Linked DNA regions of Homo sapiens: region 1 is linked to region 2. Evidence: fine-mapped expression QTL. A gene starts in region 2. The other region holds a variant in brackets. All regions are shown on one strand. Distances are from middle to middle. Region 1 overlaps SIRPB1 (signal regulatory protein beta 1). Region 2 holds the start of SIRPG (signal regulatory protein gamma).

Region 1 (5,380 bases), 92 kb before region 2:
CCACAGGCTTAACAGGAAGCATGACTGGGAGGCCTCAGGAAACTTACAACCATGGTGGAAGGAGAAAAGGAAGCAGGCACCTTCTTCACATGGTGGCAGGAGGGAGAGAGAGAGAGAGAGCGAAGGGGGACTTGCCACACACTTTCAAAAAACCAGATCTCATGAGAACTCACTGAGATCTTATGAGAACTCACTATCACAAGAACAGCAAGGGGGAAGTCCGCCCCCATGATTCAGTCACCTCCTACCAGGCCCATCCCACAACACATGCAGATTACAATTTAAGATGAGATTTGGATGGAGACACAGAGCCAAACTATATCACTCCATATTAGAAATATACAAAAAAAGGCAAGCACTCTTCCAACTACTCTGGATACATTTTTACAAAGAAACAGCACTTGAACTCTCAATGTTTCTAATGCTTTGAATTGTAGTGCACAAATAAATATTTATTTCATTATATTTTCATTGTCCTCTACATTTGTAACTGAGAGTGTGAGAGTTTCTAATATTTTGACAAAAAATGGTAAAGGTCACAGAATGATCATTGTTTTTCTGATTGACTATGGAGACTGCTTTCCTGGGTTTCAGGTTGCACAGTCATTTTTGCAATCTTGCACTGCCATGAAAAGTGAGGGCTGCCTGTATTCGGCATAATACTCATCAAAATAAGGGCTAAAGAAAAATTAATTAGGATAAGAGAAATTAGAATGCCGGGATAGAGAAAATAAATAATATTTTATACAAGGTAGTTTATAGAAGGTGCCTTTAATGAAGTGACATTGAGCAGAGACTTGAAGGAGGGAGAGCGGGAGCCATGCAGCTGTGTTGGGGAAGAAGCAGAGAAGTGATATGATTTGACTTTTCCAAAGAATCACTGTGGCTGAAAAATGAAAGCCAGAGGAGTGGTCCCCAAAGAGATGATGCTGGCTGGGACAGGGAGGGGTGGTGGAGGTGAGAGGTGTGGAGAATAGGGATTTAACTCTGAGGTTTCCAGCAGCAGGCTTGGACTGGGCCCTGAAAACCAATTGTTAAATTTCAGGAATCTTGCAATCTGGTTGTTTAACTGTTGGCAGTGTGAAATTGGTCAGGTTGGGAGTTATTACACTAGAGAAATTGGCAAGCACTGCAAAACAGCTTTTGGTTTTTCCCTTTCAGAAAGTCCATTGTTAAACATTTACCATCTCATGTAAGTGGACACATGCATTTTGGAGGCAGAACTGAATATGAGTTGTAAAGGGCAGTCATCGAGGGCTCCTCAATGTTGGGCTGTGGCAGCATTTCTACCACAAGCAGCAGGACTGGGAAGGCTGCAGGATACTAGAAGAAATACTGTCTCCATCACAGAGAGAGAAGGGAGAGCTTCTTTCTTTTTGGGTTTGAGGGATAGGATGCTTGGACAAAGAGGAAAGAGAATCATTTTTTTCTTAAAATTGGTATAGGGGTTCATGTGTATTCAGGAGGCAGTAGAGAACCTCAACAAGGCTGGGGGAGTTGGGGTAGGCAGGAATCCAGAAGACAGGATAACTCTTGAGAGCCTGGAGAGAGTCTGTGGTTTATGGCCAGTCCCAAGGCGACGGATGGGAGAAGTCCTGGTGTGTTTAGATTTGGAGTGTTTCTCACCTTCTAGGGAGGTGCCATGAGTCAGTGCCCAGAGCCCAATCCCATGGCCCCTGCTCAGGACCGTGAATAGAGACACTGCTTTGGGGCATCATGGTCTTGTGAAGGTGGAACAGGAGCGTGTGGGCAGGCAGATGACCTGGGAGAGGAGGCGTTTGGAGCTGAGTGTGGGGAAGGTTCTCGCCAGCTCCTTCTCTCAGGCTGAGCTTCTCAAGAAAGGAGGAGGCAGCAGAGACTGAGGGTCCTACATGGCAGGGAAGGAAGGAAGGAGCTGTTGGAAAACACATCCACATTCATTCATCTGCTCATCATTTAAGAAATGTTTCCTGAGAGCCTGATATGTCCCTAGTGCTGGTCTCCTCTTGGGATGCCTGTTATGGGTGGACAGGCAGACCTGAGATAGGACTCTGCCAGCTCAGCACTTCTTCCAAGTCCTGATGCTCCCTCTTCCCCGCTTTCCACTCAAGCACACAGAAGGTCAGAGCAGGAACAGCCCTCAGAGCAGCCTATCTGGGAATTCTCAACACTACGGTGGGGATTACTTTGAACCCATGGAGTCCCAGCAGTGGCCTCCAAGGGACCACCCACTCAGTTGGCCCTCACTTAGACCCCTCTGTCCACCTTTTCCATGGGACTCCTAGGCCACTGGGGACAACTTTGAACCCCCTTGAAGCATCCCACCTCCTGTAATACCCTTGACCATCCCAACTCCTGCACACTCCCTGGGGGTTGGGAGCCCCATACAGGGTTCCCTGAGACTCCTGAGTATCCTGAGGGAGCCCTGTCACCTTCTGTAAACTCCACTGACCCTGAAGCTGCATGGCATGTGAGCTGGGCCCTCCTGCTGGCCTTGCCTTTCTGGAGGAGCCCTTGGTCAGTCCTCCCTCTCCTAAACTTACAGTCAGGCCTTCTGTTTCCAGCAGATGTAGATGGCAGAGACACCAACCACCAGTAGCAGCTTGGGGCCCAGGAGGAGAGCTACGAGGAGTGGAGCAGTAGGAGCCAGCGCTG[C/G]TTCTGGAAATCAGGGAAGAGGAGGAGCCATGAGAGGGGCCACCTGGGAGCTCATCCCAGGGGCCTCCACTTACCCCATCTGAGGCTACCTGGGCCCATCAATCCTCTGAAGCTTTTGAACTTGCATCCTGCTCTGGCTTTCCTGACTCCAGCCGAAAGCAAAGGCCAGGGAAAGTGGCTCCTCATTCTCACTCACCCTGTCCCAGGCTGCCAGTTTATCCTCCTGGAGGGAAAAGGTGGAGAGAGTGTGTGCTCAGGTATTCATATATGTGGCAACTGGGTTCCTCACTTGATCCTCACACGCCCATGGGGCAGGGATTATTATTCCATTCTGATGGGGAAACTGAGGCCAGAGAGTTTAGGGAGTGTCAGGAGATTAGTAGGATCCAAACCTAGGGAAGCCCATCATTATGTCCCCAAGGGTGACTCCTGAGTCCAAGACAAGTCCAACACTCCAGGATCATGAGAATGATTAGTAAAGGGTGGGCAGGTGGTGTGAGGATGGATTCAGAGTGAGAGAGTTGCATGCTGCCCTTCTTAGCCCCAGGGGCAGGGAGAGGACCCCATATTCTCATGATCTCAGGGAGCCCTCCAGGGACAAGACCCAATTAAACCTGCTGGCTGGAAAATTCCCTGGTGAGTCAGGGAATGTGCCTCGGGCTTGGAAGGGCCTCAGACATCATCTCTCCTACCTCAACCCCAGTGCAGATGTCATCTGAAATCTTTCTGTTGGACACAGAGAGTCAGATCTACGGAAGCTCATGTTGGGACTGTTTGCATTTTTTAAATAAGGGGTTTTGGATGTTAAAAGTAACAAAGGTATTAAAAAAAATTTTTTTTAAAATAAAATGGTGCTGGTGGGTCCTTAAGGAAGGAATGGAGACCTCAGCATCTATAGCCGCTGGAGTGTTGGAGTGTTGCAGGCCGGCAGTTCTCAGATGGGTGGCTCTCTGGGGCTTTCTCTCCTTTGAGGAGAGCTGCACTGCCCAAGTTTATTCCTTCTAAGGGGCAGCCCACATGAGAGATAGACTGCATTGGGAATATGAAGGGCCAGCCCTTCCCCTCAATTTGAAAAAAATCTACAGGACCCTCCGGCCTTTTGCCTCTCTGCAAGAGCAGCTGCATCTTTGTACTGCCTGCACTGTGGCTCAGCACCTCCCTCCTCCTACACTCCTGCCTCCTCATTCCTGAGGCATGTTGACCCTGACAGCACTCTAGGATGCCTCCTGCATTGCTTTATGCATCCTCAGGTGGCCTCCCAGAGAAACTGTCCTTGGGAAGTGGTCTGGAAAGAAGACTCTAAAATATAAGTTGGGAATCTGATTACTCATCAGCTAGCAATGAGGACCCCAGGGCTGGTGGTGAATGGGACTGGAGAAGCCGTGACTTGCTGTTGTGTTGCGATTGATAACACTTTCACTGGCACTAAACTGGGATAGTGTTACCACAGGAAGGAAATTCCTTGCCATTAGCCTTTTGAAAACAGATTGGGAAATGGTCGTTATAAGAACTAAGGTGTTAGCTGTTGCTGGGCATGAACTCTTGGGAGGAAGGCAATGAGAAACTAAGAGTGATTCATCATGAGTTAAAGTTCAGCTGGAAGCCAGAGGACTTCTTGGCAGCACTGCAGATTCTTATTTCTTGGAGCCACAGGGCAGAAGGAATAGAGAATTGGGTCCTGGGCATCATAGAAGAGTAGCAGAATCACAGCGGAGCATGAATCTCAGTTTCAATGGCTGCTATGCTGGGATAGGGCCCTGATGGGGAAGTTGTGGGACCCTGAAATGTGGAAGGAGACATTTGGGTCAAACCACTCAAAGATTGTCAGTTGACTTCAGAGTTACTGGGGACAATTGCAGTGGCATCGCTACTTGTCGCTATAAATATCCTCCCCAAGCCAAAAGAAGAAACAGAAAAGGAAAAGTAAATTCTACACAATCCAGGCCCTAAATATTGCTTGAAGAGAGAATGCCAAACTGCAAAATGGCTGAGTCAAAAGGGAACACTCACCTAACCCTAGGGCACAGTCTCTCACTAGGCTCCCATGCCACTGATGCAGCACGTCACAGAAGGCATCCTGCAGTTTGCCTGCCAGCCTAGACAACCTAAAATGCATTTCCAGACTTAGCATATGTGCCAGGATGCCATGTCAGACACACTGAAAGAACCCAAAAATGGCAGCCCTCTCTCAGCCCCAGTGGGTGGTTGGAAGTCTAAGAAAAGACTCAACCTTGTCCAGATGGTACAGACTCATCTCATCCTGTGCCTCCTTGAGAAGTACAACTATGAACCCAAGAAATATCATGAGGAGCAGGCATAGGAGAACTTCCAAGGTGGAAGAGCGAGGTAAGAACCTGAGGACTGAGGAACAGCCCAGCAGCCAAACAGCAGGGACTCTATGCCCAAATACCAGCCCCCAGCCACAGAAAGTGATGAAGGGAGGACATAGAAAAGAGGAGGTCTCAAGTCAATAAATATAAATCCCGCACTTAAAGAAACTACAAAAAGTAGGGCAAAGTAAACCCAAAGAAAGCAGGAGATAGGAATTAATTTAAAAAAAAAAAGAGAGAAGAGAGCAGATAATTAATGAAACTGAAAACACAAAAACAATACAAAAACCCATTGAAACAAAGAGTCAATCTTTTGAAAACACCAATAAAATGGGAAAAAACTCTAGCATGACTGATGAAAAAGAAAAGAGAAATGACACATTTTTAGTATCAGGATGAAACGTGGGATACCATTG
Region 2 (5,380 bases):
TGAATTGTATTCTTGAAAACTGCTGAGAGAGCAGAGTTTACGAGTTCTCACAATAAAAAATGATAAATATGTAAGGTAATGCATATGTTTATTAGTTCAAATTAGTCATTCCACAATGTATGCATATTTCTTAATATGTTGTACATAAGTATACATACTTTTGTCAAATAAAAATAAAATAAAATATTTATTTTGTTAAAAATTTCACTGAAAATAGAAAGAGAACCAATGATTAAAAATGAAATCTCATCTGTGCATGTACATGTACATGCATAGGCACATGTGCATATATATGTGTATATAATGTGTATATATACACATTCACAAATATATATAAAAGTTTGGCTTATCATGTTAGTATATAAGGTTGTTTTGTGCATTAATTACAATTATGACAAATTTAAAAATCTCAGTAAAATATTTGGCACATAGAAACCATCCAACACATTTTTAACATTTTGGGAAAACATACATACACTAGTGTTTTACCTCTGATTGTTTCTGACTGGTGTGATGGGTGATTATTAATCTAATGTTTGCTTGCCTGCATTTTCTAATATTTCTACACATAGCATAACATGGTTAAAAGGGTGATAAACTCTGGAACTGGTCAACCTGGACTTGATCCCAACTGCTCCATGGACTGAAGTAGGGGACAATGAACAGGTTCCTGCCTCTGCCTCACTCCCCATTTGCAAATAGAGCACAAGAGTTATAGCTTCCACACAGGGATGCTGTGAGGATTAGTTGACTTAATACACACAAAATGCTAAGAAGTGCATCTGCCTTACAGGAAGAGAGCAATTGCTGAACTATTACTGCTGTCATTTGGGTACAGTGTATGTGTAAAAAAAATAATTTGAAAAGTGAGACCTTGCCCTCTAAGACCTGTGAGATGACATCACAGCAGGGCCCAGTGGGCAACTGAGAGGCTATTGTGCCCAGCCCTGTGACCGGGGGTCAGCTGCATGGTCTGAAAAAGGGGTGAAGACAGGCAGCCTGTCTGGGAGCTGTGAACAGGGCTCTCTCAGGTGGCACCAGGAAAGACCTCCCAATCCTGTCTGCCTGGGGGAAGGGAAAATAAATTCTCCAGAGGAAAGTCAAGATGACCAAGGGAGATGGTGGTGCCTGTTATGGGCTGAATGTGCCCCCAAAACGAATGGGTTGAAGCCCCAATCCCCAGCGCCTTAGAATTTGACCATATTTGGAGACAAGGTCTTTAACCCATTTATGCCCGAGGTTGCAATTTTTTTTTAATTTGAAAAATCAGACCTTGGCGATGCCCTTGAGCAGTAGGATATAAATAACTCCCGCAAGCTTAGTGATCCAATAACGGAGCACTAGGCATAAATGGGTGAAGCAATTTAGTTAAATGAGGTCACTGGCGGGGAGCCTTAATCCAATATGGCTGATGTTCTCATAAGAGAAAATGAGAATACAGACACACACAGAGGAAGACCATGTGTCAAGACACATGGAGGAGATGGCCTTCTACAAGCCAAGGAGAAAGACCTCAGTAGAAACTAACCCTGCTGGCATCTTGATTTTGCAATTCAGCCTCCAGAACTGAAAGAAAGAAAGTAAATGTCTATTGTTTTAGTTACTGAGTCTGTGGTGCTTTGTTGTGGAAGCCCTAAGAAAGGAATATAGGACGCTGTAAGCATGAAATGTGGAACTTCTTAAAGAGGAGGAGGGCACACAAAAATGGGTAGGAGGACTCAAGACAGGTAAGGATTTAATAATGATTCTTCTGTGTTTGTCAAATAAAATATTATAAAAATGTAACTAATTGTGATGGTGGCAGAAGCCTCACAAGGTTTGATGCCTCTGGTAGCCAGCTGCAGATCCACAGAGAAAGTGCTCAGCTCCCTGATCTTCTGCTCTTGGACAATGTCCAGTCCTTGACCTTCCTTGGCAGTGCTTGTGCTTATCTGAAATTGCTGCAAGTCCAGGGGCAAGGCTAGGTCCAGGAAGCAGGGAGAAAGGGTTCTAGCCCAATGCAATGCTCACCTGTAAGTCCCAGCAGTAGAGTCAGAAGCAGGAAAGGACCAGGAGGATGGGGCCAGGAGGCTGGGACAGGCATTTTGGAGACCTCAGAAGCCTGCTCTGTTCAAACGTCTGTTCTGGGGAGATGTCAGGCCCTGCTCTGAAGACAGAAGACAAGCCCTGCCTCCCTCAATTCAAGAGGAAGTGGCTATGATGGAATGCAACAGTAACCTGCTTCTAGATTGTGACTTACAAATCAGGCACAGTAGGCAGCTACAAAGCAAGGAGTTAATCGTGCTCCATTTTCAGGATAATCAGACAGGGTTAGCAGAAATAATGCTTCCTGCCTGCCTGGGACCTGTGCTCCCTCCTCGTGTCCCCAAACCCATTTTCAGGTCTTCTTGGTGATTTGCCATTTGAGGCTTTTAAGTCAAGAAAGATCTGTTGTTAGGTATTGTTTTCTAAAGTCTTTATTTCAAGACCCTAGGATGTGGTTGGCTTGTGGTCTTGTTCTGCACCAGCCTCAACCAAATGCCACTCCGCTGGACGTAGGAGAAGAGTTCACAGGACCTGCTCAACACTGGAGAGGAACCAGATCTTCTCCTGAAATGATTTTCTATTCCAAATTGCTATAATTGGCAACACTTAGCCCAAATTCAGTCTCTTGTGGACCTTAGCACTTTCATGTGCCTGCACCCAGCAGAAGGAATTATTTCTTGACTCCTTCCAGGAGAGAAACTGGGTTTGAGGTAATAAGCAACTGCTTTGTGGAGTGAGGTGGGGATTGTGGGTTATGGAAAGGGGATAGGGTTATCATGAGGGAAGATTATGGTGGGCAGGTTCCTGGGGCCGTCGCATCAATTTCAATACCCTTTCTTCTACACACAGAGCACCTATTTCATTCATCACTGAGTTCGGATGGGAAATGAGGAAAGAGGAAAAATCCATGCTCCTGCCAAGAGTGTGTGCCAAGGAGTTGGGGAAGTCGCTGGGCCCTCCTATGCTCAGTTTCAATCTCCTAAACTGGGAATAGTAAGTCTTTTTGTGCAGTGTTTTAGTGACGATTAAAGAGGTAATGAGCATATCATGCCTGAAACCCAGTAGGTCATTATTGATACTCACGGTGCCAGGTGAAGTGCGGGAACTCAAATGTTGCTTTTGAATGGATCCCTCCTGCATGCTGAGTTGCCCACCAGTGGCTTTCTCCCAGCAACCCAGGCCTCCTGAGACCCAGCTTATATAGTGTATTTGGACTCTCGCTGCCACCCTGAAATCAGTTTCTCCCTCTGGATTCTCTAAATCCCGCTCCTTGTTCAACCATAGATTAATTCCTCCTCTTACAATTTCCAGCTGTGTGATTTTCAAAAAGACACTACTTCTCTGAGCCTTGGTTTGATTGTATGTAAATAAATGTTAGAATATGCACCTTGTAGAGCTATGGTAGGAATAATATAAGCCATACTGAATGCTTGACTCATAATTAATTATAAGCAAAAAAACATGGCTATAATTATTTTCTGTGTACAGGAAGAGTCCACTGGTTCTCTGCCACCGTTGTGCCTTAGAAAAGCCACCTTGTTAAAAGAAATGATTTCTCTTCCAGCATCTATGACTAAGAAAGACCTGTCCAGAATCCTTCATCTCACATGTGGGTTTTAGGTTCTTAATCTGTCATGAATAATTGTCAAATCAAATTGTAAATGTTATCATGTTTTAATTGAAAGTCCTGTTTTAATGTGGCAGATGTACACAGGGTGAAATCTTCCCCTCCTTCTCCACACCCACAGTAGTGAAAACACAAAATGAAAAGAATATATGAATCAATGTCTAATTACACTTGAATACAAGCAATTGGCTTCTATATGACATGAAGGAATTATAACAGCTATCATTTATTGAGAGTTTCCTGTGCTCCAGATATGGTGCCAAGCATTTTTCTATTGGTAATGTCATTAAATCATTGCTCTGACCCCATGAGGTAAGCTCAACCATTAACCTCCTTTCACAGGTGAGAAAACCCGAGGCACATGGAGAGTAATGAATTTGCTCAAGATCACCCGGCTTTTAGAACTGGAACATAGGCTGCCACACTCCACAGCCTTCACTTTTAATGGTTGTACTATGATACCTCTTGCAGGAAGGGAGAGACATCCCTCAGGAAGAAAGCAGAGAAGAAGCTATAGCCTCAATTAGGAGCAGCCCTCATAGTGAGGCTGGGGCAGGTGCCATGCTCCACGAGGCCCTGACAACCCATGATCACATGGGGAATTATTCCTGGGAAGACGGAAGTGCAAGCAAGAATCACCAAAGATTTGAGGAACAGCACTGCAGCTAACAAATTCAAGAAAAACAATAACTCAAAAACAAATAGCAATCAAAAGAACTTCACACCTGAGCAAATATGAAAAAACAAAATGTGTAAAGTTCTTTAAAGTTAGTATACTTAATGATCTTATAAGGAAAACAAAAGAGAAGTAAATTCATAAACCAACATCAGGCATGTAATAATATGAAACAGAAATAGGCGGGCATGAGGTAACAACAACCATCTTGAAAAAATACCAAAACACAGACTTTGGAAATGAAAACATAATCAGTGCTGAAATTTTTTAAAAAAACTTAATAGGTTGACTAGCTGACTATACATAAATAAGTATAATAGTAAGTTAGTAAGCTGGGTGATTATGTAGGGGAAATTTCCTGTGGTACAGCACAGAGACACACCCAAACAAAGTAATGTGGATAGGTAAAAATATACCACAATATTGTGGTATATCTTTTCCTATTGCTCTATTTTTACCTATCCACATTACTACATTACTTTGAGAGGTGTGAGTCATAAAGTATTATGTCTCCAAAAATAAGAATTGGGCGTATATGACTCAAAAATGCATAGTATAGTGTCAGGAAGATGGCAGAATCTGTGCTTAGAGCAGCAAGTGCCTTCCTGTGAACTTCAATCCTTCAGTAAAGATCAACTAAGTACACAGATGCTTACAATTTTTGTGGAAATCACGTGGAGAATTGAAATTTAAATTTAGGTGACTTGGGGAAGCATAGATAAAATCTGAATGTTTGAGAGGACCAGGAACCTGGGAGTCCATGAGCCAAAATTCTCCTTTATCTGCCATATTTCACCCTGACTCATCACAGCAGGTGCAGATAACCAGGGACGACTTTGGGACACATGAGAAACTGGGAGCCAGTGGATGCTCCAGAAGACTAAAGATGTAAGACTGTGGGCTTAAGAATCAAAACTTCCTGGTCTGAAATCCAGCTCTAATGGGTCCCAGCTGTGTGATCCTGGGGTCACTATTAACTTCCCTGTTTCCTGAGTTTCCCCAAGTGTACAACGGAGAGAATAATCATACCATCTTCATAAGTTTGTGATGAG

The links. PIP is the estimated chance that this variant, and not a neighbour inherited with it, causes the effect. A credible set is the group of variants that fine-mapping cannot tell apart.
Region 1: its variant is the best candidate, but not a certain one, in a credible set for the expression of SIRPG in blood mononuclear cells (TOPMed, PIP 0.72).

The regions. Positions count from the first base shown.
Region 1 is chr20:1,563,631-1,569,010 of GRCh38, forward strand. It overlaps SIRPB1 (signal regulatory protein beta 1), which reads right to left. Exons shown (of 6, transcript NM_006065.5): 5 at 2,523-2,637; 6 at 1-1,867. The coding sequence ends at 2,525. Among named protein-coding and RNA genes, the nearest start is that of SIRPD, 8.6 kb to the left of the region's middle. The variant C/G (reference allele first, on the strand shown) is at 2,635.
Region 2 is chr20:1,655,632-1,661,011 of GRCh38, forward strand. It overlaps SIRPG (signal regulatory protein gamma), which reads right to left and starts at 2,148. Exons shown (of 6, transcript NM_018556.4): 1 at 2,011-2,148. The coding sequence starts at 2,083.